Linked DNA regions of Homo sapiens. The protein of the gene in region 3 interacts with the protein of the main gene of each other region in a pairwise test. Each region holds a gene or a part of one and is shown on either strand. Other genes may lie near its edges.

The links. Proteins that work in one complex are often made in the same cells at the same time.
Region 1: the proteins of ACP2 (region 3) and PAK1 interact in binary tests that used the Homo sapiens proteins (3 or more experiments, as listed by UniProt).
Region 2: the proteins of ACP2 (region 3) and KLK6 interact in binary tests that used the Homo sapiens proteins (3 or more experiments, as listed by UniProt).

Annotation. Positions count from the first base shown.
Region 1 is NC_000011.10:77,471,095-77,478,060, forward strand, and holds the start of PAK1 (serine/threonine-protein kinase PAK 1), read right to left. Parts: upstream 3,001-6,966; 5' UTR 2,458-3,000; exon of another isoform or gene 2,315-2,457; intron 1-2,314. UniProt on the Homo sapiens protein: Protein kinase involved in intracellular signaling pathways downstream of integrins and receptor-type kinases that plays an important role in cytoskeleton dynamics, in cell adhesion, migration, proliferation, apoptosis, mitosis, and in vesicle-mediated transport processes.
Region 2 is NC_000019.10:50,966,592-50,974,139, forward strand, and holds the start of KLK6 (kallikrein-6 isoform A preproprotein), read right to left. Parts: upstream 3,001-7,548; 5' UTR 2,899-3,000; intron 2,177-2,898; exon of another isoform or gene 2,001-2,176; 5' UTR 1,950-2,000; exon of another isoform or gene 1,926-1,949; intron 1,763-1,925; exon of another isoform or gene 1,682-1,762; intron 1,522-1,681; 5' UTR 1,514-1,521; coding exon 1,474-1,513; intron 906-1,473; exon of another isoform or gene 735-905; coding exon 578-734; intron 1-577. UniProt on the Homo sapiens protein: Serine protease which exhibits a preference for Arg over Lys in the substrate P1 position and for Ser or Pro in the P2 position.
Region 3 is NC_000011.10:47,245,795-47,253,057, reverse strand, and holds the start of ACP2 (lysosomal acid phosphatase isoform 1 precursor), read left to right. Parts: upstream 1-4,254; 5' UTR 4,255-4,268; coding exon 4,269-4,382; exon of another isoform or gene 4,383-4,419; intron 4,420-4,429; exon of another isoform or gene 4,430-4,543; coding exon of another isoform or gene 4,544-4,573; intron 4,574-4,702; exon of another isoform or gene 4,703-4,758; intron 4,759-4,924; coding exon 4,925-5,020; intron 5,021-5,330; coding exon 5,331-5,417; intron 5,418-7,223; coding exon 7,224-7,263. Other genes in the region: NR1H3 (oxysterols receptor LXR-alpha), read right to left, coding at 4,194-4,254.

The DNA.
Region 1 (6,966 bases), about 30 Mb from region 3:
GCTATATGCAGTCACTATTCTAGGCACTAGGATTAAAGCAATGACCAAACTGACAAAACTTCCCAGTCTCAGGAAGCTTTCATTCTATTGGCAAGAGAGGGATGGGATGGGATGGGATGGGATGTCACGCAGTTAAGTGCTACGGAAGAAAAACGGGACAGCAGGAGCTGGCAGGGTGCTGGTTTTTATTAAGAGCAGATCTTTTAACCCAGTGGTTCTCAAACTTTAGCAAGCATCAGAATCATTTAAAGGGCTTATTAAAGAAAAGAAATTCACAGGCTACCAAAAAAAGACAGGCACAAACTCAAGTAATTGCAACAGAGCGCTACAGAAGGCCATAAAAGTGGTATGTACATGAGCCAGAGGATGGAAGAGCAACTCATTCTATGCAGGAAAAGGAGAGACTAAGGGACTGCATCCCAGAGGCCCAACAAGGTCATCTCCACAGGCAGGTAAGGGGTGGAAGGGAAGCATTCCAGGAAGAAAACAGAACATGCAAGAGTGAAGATGAGAGTGGCAGGGGAGCCACAGAAAGTGAGACTGCAAAGGCAGGCAGTGGTCTGATCCCTGAGAGCTTTTTATTCCATGTTACTCTGAAATTTATCTTCAGAATATGAAGAGTCAGGGGTAGGGGGCGCTGATGTGGTAAGGTTTTGTTTTACAGAAATCTTTCTGGATGCACAGTACCTTCCTTTGAGGCACTGCTTCCTTCAAACCTAGCACAGGGACTCAAAACATGTGCTTAGTAAATGTATATTGAATTGAACTGAACAAGCTTTTTACCAAATGCCCTGTTATGGATGAGGCAGGTCACCTTCCCTGCAGGACTCACTTTGGCCAAGAGAAGACTTGTAAAACAGGTCCAGCAGCCTCAATTATTGCACACTACTACCTGTACAACTGGAGTCCCCCAGAGATTAGGGCAGACCTTCATTGTTTACTTGTCTACCTCACCCATTAGACTTTGAGCTCTTTGAAGACAGGGAATATCTTAATAGACTGAATCCCCATAGCCTTAGCAAGAGGCCTGAAACATAGTAGCTCTCCGAACTCCAGTAATGTTGGATAAACGAATTGACTGAATAAGCAAATTTACCAAGGTAGACCCATGAGCTCATGTAGTTAAAGAGTATGGATAAGCTTCAGGGAAAGTATGGGAAGTTTTCAGGGTCAATGTTCCCAAAACCCTTTTTGAAAGGCATAGTTTCTAGTTGAGGTGGGGAGTTTTTATATGCACCTGACTTAGAATTTTCCAAATAGGAACCAAAATGTTGTAAGTGCTGTGGTAGAAATCCCACCGGGCCAATGGGAAGAAATCAGCTCTGTCTGTAAGAGGAGAGACAGGATGGAGGCCAGCAAAGACTTCACAGTGTGGGAATTCTTCAGTGGACTCTTGAAAGCTGAGTCCGGTGCTTGCTACTTGCCCGTTTTGGGGCATAAAACCAAACTTCTGGAGCTTTTAAGGCTGGAAGTGACCTGCTCAAGGTCACACAAGAAGTAGATGAAGCCACAGGGTAAGAGAGATGAGGTATCTGTACTGATAATTCCTACTTTCTCCTGACAGAGTTGAAAGAGAACCCAAAAATGTAGGAGGCAAAATTAAAGATTGTTCTCAGGAACAATTCTTAAAGTCAAGACTAATGAATCTGAATTTTTATTAGTAACCACGGAACTAACCCTTCCCTTCACTGTTCACAGTTTTTGTAACAGTAGAACAATTATCCAAGGGGTTTAAAAACCAAGGACGTTGCTCACAACGCCACACCCACTACTTCTCAAGTATTCTTCCAAAACACTCCCAGTAATGTGTACTGCTGAAATAGGATAGCGAAGGCTACAACAATCATGTCTTTTCAAACGTAATAATGAACATAAAATAACTATAAATCTCCTTCCCCGGTTGTTTTTCACTTCCCAAGTTACAGAATATTCCGGGGTGGGGGAGGGGCTGCGTAAGTCAAGTCCTACCAGCCCTTATTTTTCAGGGAGTAGAACCCTAAAGGTGACTGTCCAAGCCTGGAAGGGGTCATTTATTCCATGCAGAAGGAACTGGGCGCCGCTTTGCTGTGCCTCCTCGTAGCGGGACAGGGTGAGCGCCGCAGGACTGCGAAGTTCGGGACGGACTCGGTCCCGGACCGGTACTCGTGTGGCCTCCCGGCTCCAGCCTGGCCTGGCCCCGCCCCGCCCCTTCCCTCTCCCAGGTCTCTCGAATCGCCCGGCGTCTGAGACCCGCGACCCCGCCGGTACGCGCACAGGGGGCCTTTGTTGGCCCGACGGGAGCGGGCCTCGCGGGGCGCCGCCCGCCTCACCTTACCTGGCGCCTCCTCCCGCCCAGGCGCCCGGCCCCGCAACGCGAAATAAATGGGCCCAGACCCCCACTCCACCCGTCCCCACCCCCGCGCCCCAGCCCTGGCAGCCCGGGACGCGAGGGGTACTGGGCGGTAGGCCCGCTCTCACCTTCCGCGCTCGCTCAGCTCCTCTCGGCTCCTCCTCCTCCTCCCGGCGGTGGGTGCCGCCTAGCCGGGAGTGAGGGCGCGAGTGTGCGCGAGCTACCGCTTCACTTTCTCCCTCCTGCCGCCGCCGCCGCGCTGCCCGTGGCGGGGCTCCCCTCAGGACAGGGGAACTGCGAGGGAAGGGATGATGGGGGGGCGGGAGGGAGCGAGGCGACGCGGGCGGGGGGGGAAGGGGGGACTGAGGGGCGAGGTGCGAAGGGCTCAGATGGCCTCTGAGGCAGGAGGTGGTAACTGGATGCGGAGACCAGGTTCCTCGAGGGGGCTCACGAAAGCGCGGGGCTCCGTGGAAAAGGGAATGAGAGTCCAAGGGGGAAGGCGTCTGTGGGGGAGGACTGCAGAGCCTGTGAGGGAAGCGCGATGGGCGAGCGAGGGGGCGGGAGCGTGTGGGGGAAGCCGTGAGGGGGCGTCTACTGTGCAGCCACCACCTTCGGCTCCGGCTGCAGCCGCGGGAGGGCAGCCTCCCCCGCCCACAGCCGCGCTATTGTACGCCGCCCGGCAGGCCTGACCGCCTAGTTCACTGGCTCCCCTACTCCTCCTCCTCCCGCCTCCTCCTCCCCTCTGCCCTTTCCCCTTCTCCCCCTCCCCCTCCCCCACTCCCCCTCCCCGGCGCGGCGGCGGCGGCTGCGGCTCCGGTGGAGCCGTGCCCGCCCCGCCTCCCGCAGGTGAGAGGGGGCGGGGAGGGCCTGACCGACCCGTGGGAGCGAGGCCAAACCCTGGCCCGCATGAGGGCGAACGCCTGGGATTACGTCATCGGCGCGTGACGCCAGAGGCTGGGGAATCACCCGCTTGCTGCGTGACGTCATCGCGTCGCGTCACTGTTCTCGGTCCGCTGTCCGTGGCGGGTTGTTTCCGTGCAGCCTTTCTATCAGACAATTTTGGGACGATTTCTGGGAGGGCTACTGTAGTAGTCAGGATGGAGAAAGACGGCTAACTTCCGGCGCTGAGGGTCCTTTTCAGGTTAACAAAGCACCACCGCATCTATGAGCTCGTTGTCAAGGGCTGAATTTGAAAACTATCCGATGTCGTGTGATCTCACAGCCAGACATGTATTATGTTTTCTTTCTGTGGGAGAGGGGGCAGGGGTGGGAGGAAGACAAAGAAATTATAACGGAGATGTTTGAACTAATGTGAACTGACATACGAAAAGAATGGGCTTCCTTTCACGTTTTTTCCCCTACCGTGGAGGGTACTTTCGACCCAAAGCTTTCTTTCTCCTGAGCTCAGATTGTGTATTTCCCAATACCTCCCGAGCAGCATTACCTGCATACTCTTCGTACCTCAGATTCAACATGTGCGAAACTGAGACAGCATTAGAAAGGCTAAGAGTCCGGAATCAGGTTGCCTTGCTTGAAATCCTAGCTATTCAAATATTAGTGATAGGACCTTGACATTTCTAAGCCGTAATTTTTCTGTAATAATAAGTAGTACCTTAACTAGGTCTTCCTAAGCCTCAGTTTTACCATGGTAATAGTAACAAGCCCTTTAGAATGTTGGCTATTATTATTATTTCCCCCCCAAAATTGCTTCTTACGTTCCTTTCCGTTCTCAATGAATGGGCCACCCATTCAACAATCCCCTAAGCCAGGAACCTAGACATACTAATAGCTCCCCGTTCTTCCTCTCTCAACATCCATATCAAGTTGGACACCAAGTCTTGTAGCTTCTCCTAAATATTTTTCAAGTCCTTGCCTGTGTCGTCTTCTACTACCACCACCTGAACAACTGGAGCAACCTTTAGTCTCTTCAAACTCAATCTATTTTTCTCACTAGTTACCTGAGTAGCCTTATAAAAGCACAAATCTGATGATGTCCTCCCGTTTAAACACCGAAAGGATTTTATTGCTTTCAGGATAAAGTTCAAACTCCTGAACTTGGCACTTTATTACCTGACTGCTTACACTAGCCTTTCTAGCTTTGTCTCACATCATTTATTTTTTGCTCCAAGCACACTGAAATATTAACGTTATTTGAATACACATTTCTTCATGTCTTCAAGCTCTTCCCTACTTAGCTGACTGGCCAACACCTATTCATTGTACAAAGCTGAGCTCAAATGTCATTCATATTCATATTCATATTCATTTGACTAATATTTCTAAAGTTTCCCTAAGCCTTAACAAAACTGTAATTCTATAGTATTTCTATGCCTTTTATGGAAGTAACTGCATTTGTGTATCTAATTTCTTGAGTTCCAAGTCATATTCCTTTCCATATCCTCAGCACCTAAAACAGTGCTTGACATATACCTAAGTATCAATATGTTGTTAAAATATATTTAATAAGGCCAGGCGCGGTGGCTCACGCCTGTAATCCCAGCACTTGGGAGGCCAAGGCAGCCAGATCACCTGAGGTCAGAAGTTTGAGACCAGCCTGGCCAATATGGCGAAACCCCATCTCTACTAAAATACAAAAATTAGCCGGGCGTAGTGGCAGGCACCTGTAATCCCAGCTACTCAGGAGGCTGAGGCAGGAGAATTGCTTAAACCCAGGAGGCGGTGGTTGTAGGAAGCTGTGATTGCACCACCACACTCCAGCCTGGGTGACAAGAGCAAAACTCTGTCTCAAAAAAAATGTATTTAATAAATGTTCCTATTGTTCTTTCTATGTGCCAGGTACTGTTCTGAGCACTTTACAAACACTGTCTTTAAACCTCTACCCTCTACGGTAGATACTGTTGTTATCCTCACCCATCTTATTGATGCGGGAACTGAGGCACAGAGGGGTTAAGTAACTTAACCCAGGATCCTAACCCAGTAAATTGACTCTAATCTGGATTGTCTTTTCGTGATCTCTGCACTAGGCAGAATAATGGCTCATCCAATGGAATGTTCACATTCCAATCCCTGGGAACTATGAATATGTTACCTTCCATGACAAAAGGACTCTGCAGATGTGAGTAAATTGAGGATTTGGGGAAAGGGACTCTCCAGCTTTTGGGAGCAGACTGGAAAATGGAAAAGGCAAGAAAATGGATCCTCCCTTGGAGCCTCTGGAAAGGAAGAGATGGTATCCTGATGATACCTTAATTTTAGCCCACTGACATCCATTTAGGACTTCTGAACTACAGAACTGTGAAATAATAAATGTGTATTGTTGGCCAGGCACAGTGGCTCACATCTGTAATCCCAGCACTTTGGGAGGCCGAGGCGGGTGTATCACCTGAGGTCAGGAGTTCAAGAGCAGCCTGGCCAACATGGTGAAACCCCATCTCTACTAAAAATACAAAATTAGCTGGGCGTGGTGGCACATGCTTGTAATCCCAGCTACTCGGGAGCTGAGGCAGGAGAATCGGTTGAATCCAGGAGGTAAAGATGCTGTGAGCCGAGATTGCGCCATTGCACTTAAGCCTAGAGACAAGAGTGAAACTCCATCTCAAAAAATAAAATAAAAAAATAAAAATAAATGTGTATTGTTTTAAGCCCACTTTGTGTTTGATAATTTGTTACAGCATCCATAAGAAACTAATACAATCTCTAATCAAAGGTGACTGCTCTATGCTAGGAATTGCTAGCAGGATGAGAAGTGAAACTGTCCACCAAAGCTGCAGCTGAAATCAGAGATGGGCTAGAAGTGGAATAAATAAGTAGGATAAGTGTATACAGTAAGTCCTCACTTAACGCCATCAATGGGTTCTGCAACTTTAGGCAAAACAATGTATAACAAAACCAATTTTACCATAGGCTGGCTAATTGATATAAATAAGAGTTGAGTTCCTGTGGCATATTTCTGGTCACAAGACATCATCAAACTTCTAAATAAAGACCAAAACACCTCTAATATCAAACATTGAAATCAATGTGGCCTATACATACATTTAAGAAAGATTAATAAAAAGAGGCCAGACCAGGTGCCTTGGCTCATGCCTGTAATCCCAGCACTTTGGGAGGCCAAGGTGGGCAGATCGCTTGAGCCCAGTAGTTTGAGACCAGGCAAGATAACATGACAAAACACCATCTCTACAAAAAAAAAAAAACCCAAATACAAAAAATTAGCCAGGCATGTCAGCACACCCCTATAGTCCCATAGTCCCAGCTACCCAGGAGGCTAAGGTGGGAGGATCACTTAAGCCCCGGAGGTCAAGGCCACAGTGAGCCATGACCGCACACCTTTGCACTTCAGTCTGGGCGACAGAGTGAGACCTTGTTTCAAAAACAAAACAAAAAACAAGAGGCTGGGCACAGTGATTCATGCCTGTAATCCCAGCATTTTGGGAGACCAAGGCAGAAGATCACTTAAGCCTAGGAGGTCGAGGCTGCAGTGAGCCGTGATCATGCCACTGCACTCCAGCCCAGGAAACAGCGTGAAACCGTGTCTCAAAAATAAACAAGTAAGATCATTATTTACCCAATTTTTCCAGTTCAGGGTTGAGAGTGGCCAGAGCCTATCCCAGCAGCTAAAGGTGCAAGGCAGGAACCAACCATGTATAGGATGCTACGTAAGCTATTCCAGGGTG
Region 2 (7,548 bases), on a different chromosome or scaffold from region 3:
GGAGTTCGAGACCAGCCTGGCCAACATGGTGAAACCCCGTCTCTACCAAACATACAAAAATTAGCCAGGCAAGGTGGTGCACACCTGTAATCTCAGCTACTTGGGGTGCTGAGGCAGGAGAATCGCTGGAACCTGGGAGGCAGAGGTTGCAGTGAGCTGAGATCATGCCACTACACTCCAGCCTGGGTGACAGAGCGAGACTGTGTCTCAAAAAACAAACAAACAACAAAAACAAAACTGCCCAGTGGCTTCCTACTGTGCTCAGAATTAAATCCAAATGCCCATCACGCCCTGCAGGTCCCCAAATGATCCAATTCCCCCATTAGAAAGTAAGTTCAGGAAAACAGCAATTTTGCTTGTTTTTTTTTGTTTTCTTTTTTTTATTTTCTTTTCCACTGCTATGCCCGCAGGGCCTGGCACACATTAAGTACTCAATTAAGCAACAGCCGAATGCACCTGGCTATCAGATGGCCTCGTGCTGGGATGGGGGGGATGCCTATGTCACCTCCTGCCTGACATCTATAAGACACCCTCAGGGTTCAGTCGCATCTGCTGTTCATTTACAGTGTAGACTCACGGTTTTTTGCAGTGGGCAGCTGTGAGGACCCACAGTGGATGGATAAGGACCCCACCACAGAGCAAGTGGCCCGAGGTGTAGAGGGCAGCTTGGTAGGGGTGAGATGTCTTGTCGCAGGGTCCGCCATGCACCAACTTATTCTGCTCCTCTGCCCAGGCTGAGGGAGAGAAGATCTGAGTCAGAGAGGAGTTCTGGAGAAACCAAGCGCATCCCCCTCAACATGAACTCCAGTCAAGATTGGTCAGGTGCAGTGGCTTATGCCTGTAATCCCAGCTGAGGCAGGAGGATCGCTTGAGCCCAGGAGTTTGAGACCAGCCTCGGTAACACAGTGAGACCTCATCTCCACACACACACACACACACACACACACACACACACACACAAATTAGCAGGGTATGGTGGCATACGCCTGTAGTCCCAGCTACTTGGGAGGCTGAGGTGGGAGGGTCACTTGAGACCCAAGAGTTCAAGTCTGCAGTGAACTATGGATCATGCCACTACACTCCAGCCTGGGTGACAGAGTGAGACCCTGTCTCAAAAAAAAAAAGCTTCTCTGTATTTCCACTCCCAAACTTACCCCATTCCCATTACAAACCCAACTGTATCCCCTATTCCCGGGCTCTCTCCAACTTTCCAACCTACCTCCTACCTCTTCTATGTTTAGATCCCCATCCCTAAAGCCAACCCCACCCCAAACCCTCATATCTTCAAACCCACCTCCCACCACCCTCCCTATCTGTATTCCCCACCCTTAGCCTAATCCCCAACGTCTTCCTCATTTCAAAGCTCCCCCACCCCAACCCTGTGCATATCCCCATCCCCAATACCAGCCTCTTCTCCATCAACAAGCCCAACCCTGTCTGCAAGCCTCCCCCATCCAAATGCCCTTTCCCCACCTGCAGCAATCAGACTCAGCACCACCATCAGCTTCTTCATGGCCGCTCCTGAGAGGGGAAGCCACATGGTCCATTAGTCACTGCCTCGACCCTCCCCCCATCCCTCTGTCTGCTCCCTCTGCATCCTCTCCTTCCTTCCTGGCCTGCTATGGTCTCCTGCCTTGACCTCTGTCCTTCCCATCTAGCCTCCTGATTTATTCTTCCTCAGCCCACATCTTCCATCAGAGGATCCCACGAAAACAGTGCCAAAGAGAATTCAGAACTACGTCCACTGGTCCAGTAACCCATGGTGAGATTCTGATTAGATCTTTCTACTTTCTTGGGCACTGATTTGCCTTCCTGTCGACAGGAGAGGGTTACCCTAGGGGGCCCTAGCGTTCTTCCTCTGTATGGGAGTTTTCCTCGGAGCCTGGCTCTGTGCGCAATGGCCACCCACCCCGCCCACCCGGCAGGTTCTGTGATGTCTGTGATCTCACCTGCTGCAGGCCTCCGGGCTCCGGGGATTCTTGAGTCGGGGGAAGGAACAGCTTTGAGACGAGGAGGCAGAAAGAGTTAGAAATGCGGGGAGCCGTGAGGAGAGAAGACACTCAGATGCAGTGGCAGAGCCAAGCGGAGGACGCAGGGGCCGCAGAGCCCAGGGCTGCAGGGACTGCCAGACACACACCCCCAGCTCCCAGGCCTCCCTGGAAGAGGCTGGTTCTGTCCCCAGATGCTTCTGGAACGTCCTTTTAACCCCTGTCTCTCAGGTCCCTGAGCCAGGAGACTGGCTACACCCTTTTCCTCCTTACCCAGGCCTCCCACACACATTCCTCCCGCCCCCACGCTCTGCTCTTGGTGACCCCTGACCAGGCCTCCAGGGAAGGGAGCACTGGTCCCTGAGTGCAGTGAGGGCCTGGACTCCTGGGTCTGAGGGAGGAGGGGCTTGGGGGCCTGGACTCCTGAGTCTGAGGGAGGAGGGGCTGGGGGCCTGGACCCTTGCGTCTGAGGGAGGAGGGGCTTGGGGCCTGGACTCCTGGGTCTGAGGGAGGAGGTGAGAACTTGGACTCCTGGGTCTGAGGGAGGAGGGGCTGGGGGCCTGGACTCCTGAGTCTGAGGGAGGAGGTGGGAACTTGGACTCCTGGGTCTGAGGGAGGAGGGGCTAGGACCTAAACTCCTGGGTCTGAGGGAGGAGGGGCTGGGGCCTGAATCTGAGGCAGAGGAAGTTCTAGTCGGCTCAGTCCTTAGACCTCCGGGTTTTGGAGAAAGAAAGTGTCTGAAGACAAATTCCGGCCTCTGGGGCAAGCAGATGGTGCCCCAGGCCTCCCTGCACCCCCAGCACTCTCTGTGCCACCCAGGGACCTGCAGGCCCTCACTCCGGGCTCTAGAGCCCTCCGGCACTGGGAAGCAGCCTGCCCAGGTTCAGTGCGGTTGGGGTGACTCACACACCTGCCCGTAGGTCCCTCTGTGTGCTGCCTGCCGACCTCTGTGTCCCCAGGAGAGAGCGAGCCAGCCAGCCGGGGAGACAGCTACAGCGTGTGTCACCACACTGGCCCCCGCCCCTGCCCCGGGCTGGGGAGCAGGCCCAGGCGCGATGGGGAAAGGGCCCAGGAACAATCGGGCTTTGTCCGCCCCCAGCACCCCAGTGCCATGCTCCCAGCAGCTCCGGCCTCAACCTCTCTTCCGGCGGGCAGGCGGGAGGGCGGTTACATCAATGGCTTCCTTTTGTCCCTGTCTGACAGTCCTCCTTTGCAGTCTCTGACTGCCCACCTGGCCCTGACTGGAGATTTCGGCACTCCACATCCTCCTGGTCCTTCTCCTCCAAGTCTGCCCACCCCTGAGGTCTCTTGCTCCATCTGTCTCCCTGGCCATGGAGGGGAGGGAGCTTCCATCTCTCTCTCTCTCCCATCTCAGTCTCTGTATTTGTGTCTCTCTCCCTCTTTTTTTCTCTCTCTCCCTTCCTCTCTCCCTTCCTCTCTCCCTTCCTCCCTTCCTTCCTTCCTTCTTTCTTTCCTTCCTTCTTTTCTTTCTTTCTTTCTTTTTTTTTGACGGAGTCTTGCTCTGTCACTCAGGCTGGAGTGCAGTGGTGTGATCTCAGTTCACTGCAACCTCCGCCTCCTGAGTTCAAGCAGTTCTCCTGCCTCAGCTTCCCAAGTAGCTGGGATTACAGGCACCCACCACCACGCCCGGCTAAATGTTTTTTGTATTTTTAGTAGGGAAGAGGTTTCACCATGTTGGCCAGGCTGGTCTCAAACTCCTGACCTCAGGTGATCCACCCACCTTGGCCTCCCAAAGTGCTGGATTACAGGTGTGAGCCACTGTGCCCGGCCTCTCTCCCTTTCTTTCCCCTTGATTCTCTGACTCTCCGTGCTTATCTTCTCCTGGGTCTCTTCTTAGATTTCCCCGGGGGTAGCACTGTGTGTGCCCAGAAGGGAGTCAGTTTCCCCAGGAAGTAGCGGGGATGATTCCCGAGCGATGAGGAAGCTAGCAGGATGGAAGAGGACTTGAGGACTTATTGATGAGATGCGGACACACAGCGAGAGGCATGGAGTTAAGCAGAAATCGGAGAGCACTTGGGAACGACGTGGGGCTGTGATAAGATGGTGGTGCTGGGCAGTAGCAGAGGGATCTGGGAAGATTTAGGGAGGTGTCTTTGAACTTGGGCCTAGAAAGCTGAGCCAGGCGTAGGTCAGGAGGAAAGGCCGTGAAAATGCCTGGCCTGGGTGCACATGGGAAACCACAGGCAGTGGTTGGGGTGGTTGGTATGGGCTGGAGGGTGAGGGTGTGTGCGTGGCAGAGTGGAGAGAAATGAGGAGGGGGAAGTCACTGCGTAATAAGGACAATGATAGGAATGAAGTCTGGCTCAGCACCTGCTTGGGCTGGGCACTACAGGTAACTTAAAAAAAAAAGTTCTTTTTTCTTTTGAGACAAGGTCTTGTTCTGTCGCCTAGGCTGGAGTGCAGTGGCACGATCCTTGCTCGTGGCAGCCTCAACCCTCCTGGGCTCAAGCGACCCTCCCGCCTCAGTCTTCCCAGGAGCTGGGACCATAGGCATGAGCCACTGTTCCCAGCCAACCCTTTTCTTTGTCTTGCATTGAATCTAATTGTCATCTTGCATTGTGCACCCCCCATCACTCCAGGGATGAAGACTACTTCGGTATTCAGTATACTCTCCGGGTGCTCCCTCTCACATTTGGTCCCCACTGACCTCAGCACCTTCTTCTCAGGACGTGCTATCTTCACAGACAGCAAGTCTGATGTTGCACAACCCAGTGACCAGGCCCTATCCCTCTGCCTCCTCTCTCTGGGGGGTCCCTTCCTCTCTGTACCCACACCCTCAACCCCAACTCAGAGCTGCACCTCTCCCACCTGGACCAGGATCCCTCTGTTCTCTGTATCCCTTGCCCCAGAGAGACCTTCCTGTGCCTTGTGCTGACCTTGCCCCTCCTCTCACAGACGTGCCCTGGGTCCCCATCTCCCTTGGGACCAAGTCCCAGCCCCCCAGCCTGGCATTTGAGGACCTTTAGCATCCAGGGAAGTCCTGGCCAATGAAATGTGATGCCAAGCACGCATGCACATTTACATTTTCCAATCACCATACTTTTTTTTTTAAGTCAGAAGATTTTTTAAGTGTCCTTACCACAAAAAATAAGGGTGTAAAATAATGCATATGTTAAATAGCTTGGTTTAGCCATTCCACAACATATACATACATATATCAAACATGATGTTATACACCAGAAATATATACAATTTTTACTTGTCAATTAAAAAATAAATTTAAGGCCAGGCATGGTGGCTCATGTCTGTAATCCCAGCACTTTGAGAGGCCAAGGTGGGTAGATAGCTTGAGTCCGGAAGTTCATGACCAGCCTGGGCAACATAGTGAGAAACCATCTCTGCAAAAAGTAAAAAAATTAGCCAGATGTGGTGGTGCACACTTGTAGTCCCAGCTACTCCGGAGGCTGAGGCGGGAGAATTGCTGAGCCTGGGAGGTCGAGCCTGCAGTGAGCTGTGACTATACCACTGCACCCCAGCCTGACATGGCTGGGCAAGGTGGCTCATGCCTGTAATCCAAGCACTTTGGGAGGCAGAGGTGGGAAGATCACTTGAGCCTAGGAGTTCGAGACCAGCCTGGACAATATAGTGAGACCCTATCTCTAAAAAAAAAAACAAAAAAAAGAAAAGAAAAAAATTACCTAGGTGTGGTGGCACACATCTGTGGTCCCAGCTATGCAGAAGGCTGAGGTGGGATAGTTGCTTGAGCCTGGAGGCCCAGGTTGCAGTAAGCCATAATCACGCCACTGCACTTCAGTGTGACAGAGCCAGACCCTGTCAAAAATTTTTTTAAAAGGAGTCCTGAGTGGTGAGTGGCCCTCACACTGCATGACACAGCTATGTCTACGTCTCCGTGTGGCTCCAGCTTTCTAGAACACATCAAGCTTCCCTGACCCATGCCATGCCCTCTGGCCTCTGGCCCTTCACTGAATGCTATTCCCTCTTCTTCTTGAGATGGAGTCTCGCTCTGTCGCCCAGGCTGGAGTGATGTGGCGCGATCTCTCTTCGCCTGCTGGGTTCAAGCAATTCTCCAGCCTCAGCCTCCCGAGTAGCTGGGATTACAGGCACACACCACCATGCCTATATTTTTAGTAGAGATGGGGTTTCACCATGTTGGCCAGGCTGGTCATGAACTCCTGACCTCAGGTGATCTGCCTGCCTCGGTCTCCCAAAGTGCTGGGATTACAGGCGTGAGCCACCGTGCCTGGCCTATTCTCTCTTCTTAGCATGTTTTCCCCACCTTTTCCTGGCAATAACCTGTCCTTCAAGTCTTTACTTGGACATTACCTCCTCCAGGAAACCTTCCCTGAACACCACCCAGCTGCCACCTGCTGTAGTTGGATTACTCATTCTCTCACGTAGGTTCCCACAGCAGGTGTCTCCCTCAACCCAACCTGGACGGGGGGCCACCTGGATTGACATTCGTCATCTCTTCCACTGGACCGTGAGCTCCTTGAGGGCAGGTACGGGACTGACTCATCCCTGTGTCCCAAGCAACCACACAGGACCTTGCCCAGAAGAAGCCTTAGGCAAGACTGACCAAATGACTAAATGACTTTATCACACCCACTCCCATTTTACAGATAAGAAAACTGAGGCTCAGAACGGGAAGTTCATTGCTCATCATCAAACATCCAGGAAATGGTGGAGCCTGAATGGGAACTCAGCTTCCAACATGGCGTGGATGTGGCCCATCCCTTGGTGGCCTGGCTGGGTCTATCTTATGACAGTACGAGGTGAGTGAACTTGGGAGGAATTGTTGAGAGCTGGGTGGGGAAAGAAGGGAGGTGTTAGGCTGTGGGGAGTGGAGGGACTTTGAAGAGAAAGAAATTTCTAACTCTACCTCTTCTCTGGTGACCTTCATGGTTTGCCATCTCTGCATACTTTGAATGCTTATTTACTGGATAGTTTGCTCCAGATTGTCTTGCTCTGCAAAACTCTTCACTAAATAAATTCTTCTGTCTCGGTGCAGTGGTTCACACCTGTAATCCCAGCACTTTGGAGGGCTGAGGTGGGAGGATTACTTGAGCTCAGGAATTAGAGACCAGCCTGGACAACATAGTGAGACCCCGTCTCTACTAAAAAAAAAAAAAAAAATCAGCCCAGGCATGGTCCCAGCTACTCGAAAGGCTGAGGCAAAAGGATTGTTTGAGCCCAGGAGACTGAGGCTGCAGTGAGCTATGATCATGCCACCAAACTCTAGCCTGGATGATAGAGCAAGACCCTATGTGAAAAAAAGAAAAAAAAAATTATAAGGAAACTTCATGAGACTGTAAGCAGAAAAAAGTGCCAGAAGTCATAAACAATAAAAACCAATGCCTGGGCCAGGCGCGGTGGCTCATGCCTGTAATCTCAGCACTTTGGGAGGTCAAGGCGGGCAGATTGCCTGAGGTCAGGAGTTTGAGGACAGCCTGGCCAACGTGGTGAAACTTGGTCTCTACTGAAAATACAAAAATTAGCCGGGCATGGTGGCAGGCACCTGTAATACCAGCTACTCAGGAGGCTGAGGCAGGAGAATCACTTGAACCTGGGAGGCAGAGGT
Region 3 (7,263 bases):
GAGCCCAGGAGGTCGAGGCTGCAGTGAGCCATGATTGCACCACTGCACTCCAGCCTGGGTGACAGAGGGAGACTGTCTCAAAAAAAAAAAAAAAAAAAGAATACAAGTTTAGCTGATTCAAAAGTTTGAGCTCAAGCTCAAACAAACAAAAATCACAAATACACTCCATTATATAAAACTGCCGGCTGGGGCCGGGCGCAGTAGCTCATGCCTGTAATCCCAGCACTTTGGGAGGCCGAGTGGGTGGATCACTAGGTCAGGCTAACACGGCGAAACCCTGTCTCTACTAAAAATACAAAAAAAAAAAGCCAAAAAAATTAGCCAGGTGTGGTGGCAGGTGCCTGTAGTCCCAGCTACTCGAGAGGCTGAGGCAGGAGAATGGCGTGAACCTGGGAGGTGAAGCTTGCAGTGAGCCGAGACTGTGCCACTGCACTCCAGCCTGGGCGACAGTGGGAGACTCTGTCACAAAAACAAAACAAAACAAACAAAAAAAACAGCCGGGTGGGTGCGGTGGCTCACACCTGTAATCCCAGCACTTTGGGAGGCCAAAATGGGCAGATCACCTGAGGTCGGGAGTTCGAGACCAGCCTGACCAACATGGAGAAGCTGTCTCTACTAAAAATACAAAATTAGCCAGGCGTGGTGGCACATGCCTGTAATCCCAGCTACTCGGGAGGCTGAGGCAGGAGAATCGCTTGAACCCGGGAGGCGGAGGTTGCTGTGAGCCGAGATAACGCCATTGCACTCCAGCCTGGGCAACAAGAGCAAAACTCCATCTCAAAAACAACAACAACAACAACAACAACAACAAAACAAAACAAAAACTGCCTCTTCAGATGGAAAAAAAATGGCTAACATACCTGGATTTAGGTTTGCTTCTGCCAACACAGAATATGGTAGTGGTTCCTGTCCTCACCTTCAGAGATTCTGATTTATTTGATCTGGGATAGGCCCACATATCCATCTATCTACATGTGTTTTTTTTTTTTCTTTTTTTTTTTTGCACCTGTAGTTACGAACCAAAGTGTAAGAACCACAGAATCATCTGGCAGAAAATGCAAAAGCTGAAGGCAAAGGGGTGAAGAAACTAGGGCTCAGCTTCAGGCTCTACTATCTACTTGCGCTGTAATCCCCACCCTTCCTGGAATAGTTTCTCCCTATAAAAACTGAAATAGTATCTGCTTCATCAATCCCTCCTACGTGGGATACTTGCATGCACAAAGAATATAGACATATTTGAGCAAGTGGGAAGAAAAGCAAAAGCTGAATTTGAGAGATAGCTGAAATTTGGTGAGCCAAAGATTTACACTCTGAAAGTACAATGGTCTGGCTAGTTTGCAAGGAGTAAGAGGCCCATTAAAACAAAACACTCAACTGCCTCCCACTACCACTAATATGCAGCATTTTGCCAATTACCCAAGCCCTCTTTATTTTATTTTTTTTTTTGAGACAGAGTCTCGCTCTGTTGCCCAGGCTGGAGTGAAGTGGCACAATCTCGGCTCACGGCAGCCTCTGTATCCTGGGTTCAAGTGATTCTCCTGTCTCAGCCTCCCCGGTAGCTGGGATTACAGGCACACGCCACCACGACTGGCTAATTTTTGTATTTTTAGTAGAGATGGGGTTTCACCATGGTGGCCAGGCTGGTCTTGAACTGCTGACCTCAGGTGATCCACCCGCCTCGTCCTCCCAAAGTGCTGGGATTACAGGTGTGAGCCATGTCCGGCCTAGGTCCCGTTTAGTCCAACTAATTTGAAAAGGTTTCCTTTGACAGATACCTCTTTATTGAAAGGATTTCGGGATCACCAATTACAGTTTAGTAATGCAGTTTGAGTAGCCTGCAAGAAGCAGCCCATTATAGACTATTTAACTGAAAATCACAAAACCTGACTTTTTTTTTTTGAGACGGAGTCTTGCTCTGTCGCCCAGGCTGGGGTGCAGTGGCACGATCTCCGCTCACTGCAAGCTCCGCCTGCTGGGTTCACGACATTCTCCTGCCTCAGCCTCCTGAGTAGCTGGGACTACCGGCACCTGCCACCACACCCGGCTAACTTTTTGTATTTTTAGTAGAGATGGGGTTTCACCATGTTAGCCAGGATGGTCTTGATCTCCTGACCTCGTGATCCACCCGCCTCGGCCTCCCAAAGTGCCGGGATTACAGGCGTGAGCACGCACCCGGCCAAAACTTGACTTTTAATCCATTCTCAAACTGTGCCCATGCCCAAACTGTGAATTTGGGCAAGTCACTTCCTCTCTTTAGGTTTGTTTCCTAAGCTGTAAAGTAAGAGGACTAGGTTAAATCAGGTATTCAGAGATGCTGATTTATGAAACCTGTAATAAATGGTCTTTGTGAACCATTTGGGATTATATGCAAAATTCCATGTGTGTGTTTATATGTGTGAACATTTTTCTGGAGGAGAGGTGCAAAATTTTCATGTGATTCATAAAGGGGCTTGTGATTAAATAAGAAGGTTAAGAACTGTTTGGCTACCCAGGCTTTGGCTCTTACTCTATTTGCTTCTTGGCCTCCTCCATGACAACTCTGGAAGCAAAGTTTAAATCCTGAAGTATATATAAATAATTGAATCTGGAGTCCTAGGACAAAATAAAGACAGATAATCCTGATCTTTTTTTTTCTTTTCTTCTTTTTGAGACACAGTCTTGCTCTGTCATCTAGACTGGAGTGCAGTTGCACCATCATGGCTCACTGCAGCCTCAACCTCCTGGGCTGAAGGTGATCCTCCCACCTCAGCCTCCCGAGGAGCTAGGACCACAGGTGTGTGCCACCACACCCAGCTAATTTTTAAACTTTTTTTTGTAGAGAGGAGATCTTCCTAAGCTGCTCAGGCTGGTCTCCAACTCCTGGGCTCAAGCAATCTTCCCACCCTGGCCTCCCAAAGTGCTGGGATTAGAAACGTGAGCCACCACACCAAGCCTAATCAGGTTTTTGTTGTTGTTGTTTTGAGACAGTCTCACTCTGTCGCGCAGGCTGGAGTGCAGTGGCGTGATCTCAGCTCACTGCAACCTCCGCTTTCCGAGTTCAAGCGATTCTCCTGCCTCAGCCTCCAGAGTAGCTGGGATTACAGGAGCACGCCACTGCACCCGGCTAATTTTTTTTTTTTTGTATTTTTAGTAGAGACGGGGTTTCGCCACGTTGGCCAGGCTGGTCTCGAACTCCTGACCTCAGGTGATCTGCCTGCTTCGGCCTCTCAAAGTGCTGGTATTACAGGTGAGCCACGGCGCCCAGGCCAAGCCTGATCAGTTTTGTTTCCCAAAGATCTGAGGAGATTTGCTTCCAGTAGGCAGATCTGAATCAAAGCATCCCCAGGACCTATGATCTGACCTGCAACCGTCACAGGAGTCACAAAGTCCTGAGGCCAAACTGGCTGCACCTGAATCCTAATGGTCAATGCCAAGAGGGCCATTGATTCTGTGGAAACCCCACCTACTCCCACTTTATGATATGCGCCTGTCCCTTACCTCAAAATACCTCCCCACTGGTCTGAAATTCCTCCCCCAGGGATTCAGTGCTTTGGGTTTGTAAAGTCTGAACATCCTGTGCAACCCAACTCCTTTGGGAAGAGGCATGACATGACGTCTTGACTCTAATTAACTAAAACTTGGAAGTGGAGGGGAGGGAGGACAGGGAAAGGACTGGAAGGGAAAGTGAGAGGGCTACTGAAGCTTTGTGCAGGGCAGGAACGGTAGGCCAGACTGGGGCAACCTCAAGGACACACGGAGTCCAAAGGGTTGTTTACATACTGTGTCCTGCACCCCAAGCAAAACATCTCCTGGAGAACAGGGCCAGGGCTCAATCTCCCCACAAAGGCAGGGGCGTGGAGAGAAGCGACCTCTACTTTCCCATCCCTCGCCTCAATTCTGCACCCGATCTAGCTATGGGGTCAAGCCTGGAGGGGACGCTGGTTCTCCAGACATGGTCCCGCCCACTGCAAGTGCCACCTTGGTAAGGGATTTCTCCGAGCAGAGGCAAACGCGAATTTGTGGCCTTCTTAATCAAGATGAGGTCTTCGAGCCCTGTCTGCCGCGCCAGGTCGCGTTACCTTCTTATGCTCCTCCGCCACAGCCAGACCACGACCCTCCTGCACGCAATCCCACCGAGACTGCGCCTTTTCCCCGCACCCCAGCAGGTCCCTAAGTAAGATGGCGGCGAACGCACTTCCGGCGTGTGTCCTTACGGGTGCGTCCGGGCGGCTGCTTGCAGGTGCCACCCAGCGGGTTCCAGCTTGTTTGCTGCATAGATTACAACGGTGATGGCGGGCAAGCGGTCCGGCTGGAGCCGGGCGGCTCTCCTCCAGCTCCTTCTCGGCGTGAACCTGGTGGTGATGCCGCCCACCCGGGCCCGGAGTCTGCGCTTCGTTACCTTGGTAATGAGAGATGGGCTCACCAAAGACTTCCCTGAAGCTAAAAGGGCAAAGGCCAGCTGGTGGAGGTCGAGGATCTCGGGAAGGAACAGCTGGTTTAGGAGGGGACGACTGGCCTGGGTAGTTGGGAGGCTGGATTCAGGATTGACCTGGAGCCCTGGCTTATGGGAGTCAGGATGACCGAATACGTCGGGGTGAGTCTGCCTTGAGACAGGGAAGTGGTTGAATGGTTAAGACTCATCCCTAAAGAAGCCTTTGGTTATCTTTTTTCCCCAGTTGTCCCCACCACATACGTTGCTTTCACTTCTCTTTTCCCTTCCTACCTGTACCTTGGCTTTGCCTATGGTCTCCAGTAGCATTGCTTAGCTAAGTTAGAATCTCTGGAATCTGGAAGAAGTGACTGACTCCTAGCTGGGGTCTTTTGCAGCCAGTAGGCTTCCCAGAGGGAATGAGACTTCCTTCCCTAACATGGGGCAAAAGGTAGGCTCTGGGTCCCTATCAAGGGGATGCTTCTGACCTATAGGCAAACCATTTTATTCTCTCAGCTGTACCGCCATGGAGACCGTTCACCAGTGAAGACATATCCCAAGGACCCCTATCAGGAAGAAGAATGGCCCCAGGGGTTTGGTCAGTTAACCAAGGTGGGTCAGAAGCCAGCCTTTCCTCAGGATGAGCTGCAGAATGAGCGACGTCTAGAGCAGTCTACAAAACTTGGGGTCCTACTAAACTGCCTTTTCCCATATGGGTGCTGACTTTGACCAGATTTCATAACCTTAATCTCTGTGCCCATGATATTGCTGTGCATGACTGGCCACTTAATGAAAGACTTCTGGGATCAGATTAATTGACTCCAGCAAAGCGTGAACCTGGAAAGCAACAGGGCCTAAACCCCATGGGGCTTGAAGCCACCCCTTCCCTCTAGACCCTCTTAACCCTTGGGTTTGCCCACAGGAGGGGATGCTACAGCACTGGGAACTGGGCCAGGCCCTGCGGCAGCGCTATCACGGCTTCCTAAACACCTCTTATCACCGGCAAGAGGTAAGGTTGGGAGCTCCAGAGGCAAGGGGAACAAGGTATGCTGCCCTCATCTTTTGCCCTCAGGGAGCCTAAGGCTGAGGCTGGGCACTTTGGCCTCCTTCTTGTATTTTTGGTCACAACTACAGGAAAAGACATCTGAGAGCTGTCTGGAACAAAGCCCTAGGAGCTGAGTTGCCCCTGCTTGGCTGGGATGAGGCAAATTTGATTAAGCATCCAAATTCGGACTTAAGGGCGGGCCTGGCAAAGTGGTTTCTGACTGTGAAATCACAGGCTTTCCATCCAAGACATTGAGTACCTATTAAAGGCCAAGGACTGTGCTAGCACTTTGCATTCAGTTGTGCACCATACAGATATGATCTCTGTCTTCATGGAGCTTAGAATGTTGTGGGGGTATCTAATGATAAACCAGACAGGGCCAAGATGAAAGACAGCGGGGAAGACATGCGTAGAGAGGGCTTGTCTTTTCTTGATCAAGATGAGGTTTTTGAGCCCTGTCTGCTGCGCCAGGTCGTGCTATATTCCTAGGGCACATCAGGGAGGACTGGTGAGTGTGCCTGCTCCTTGAGTCTTCGCCCCACCCCAGGAATGGGGGAAGCTGTTCCTCTGATTACCACTGTCAGCCTCAGCCGTATCAAGAATCCATAGACATTGTTATTGTTCTCTTAAGGCCCAGCTCTGTCCTGAGCTTGTCCTTCCCCAGTTTCCTCCTCCCTTTTCATGAGCCACTATCTCTGAATAAGCTCTTCAAAAAAAATTTTTTTTTTTGAGACAGAGTCTTGCTGTGTTGCTCAGGCTGGAGTGCAGTGACATGGTCTTGGCTCACTGCAACCTCCACCTCCTAGGTTCAAGCGATTCTCCTGTCTCAGCCTCCCAAGTAGCTGGGATTACAGGTGTGTGCCACCATGCCTGGCTAATTTTTGTATTTTTAGTAGAGACAGGATTTCATCATGTTGGCCAGGCTGGTCTTGAACTCCTGACCTCAGCTGATCCGCCTGCCTCGGCCTCCTAAAGTGCTGGGATTACAGGCATGAGCCACCGTGCCCGGCCCAAAATATATACATATATTTTAAAGGGGTCTCACTCTGTCACCCAAACTGTAGCACATGCCTCAGTCATAGCTCACTGCAGCCTCAAACTCCTGGGCTCAAGTGATCCTCCTGCCTCAGCATCCCAAGTAGCTGGGACTACAAGTGCCCGCCACACTTGGGTAATTAAAAAATTTTTTTTTGTAGAGACAGGGTCTCACTATGTTGCCCAGGCTGGTCTCGAGCTCCTGGCCTCAAGCGATCCTCCTGCATTGGCCTCCCAAAGTGCTAGGATTATAGGTGTGAGCCACCAGGCCCAGCCCTTTATCTTATTTTTTTCTCCCTGGTCTCTAAGGGTCGTCACTGGAGCCAGTTTCTGCCCCAAGGACCCTGATCTAGACAGGGAGAGAGGTGTTGTTATGAAACCAGACAGACCAGAGAGCCTTACTGATTGACTCAGCACTTTTGACTGGAAGGGGCATTTCAACTAAGGCCATTCCCACAAGAGTTCTTCACAGAGTGGTGACAACCCCCAGTGGAGTGTTTGGGGGATGGGGAAGGCCAGAGGCCAGAGGAGGGTGAGGGCCAGATGTATGGTAGGTTTAGTTTGCTGGGTGACCATCAGGAACAGGTTCTCCTCTGGGGCTCCACTTTGGGGTGACCAAAACTTCCCACCACACACACACACATACATACAAGGCTCCACTTCAGGGTGACCAAAACTTCCCCAACACACACACACACACACACACACACACGACTTGTGTTGCTATCGCTGCAGGTTTATGTGCGAAGCACAGACTTTGACCGGACTCTCATGA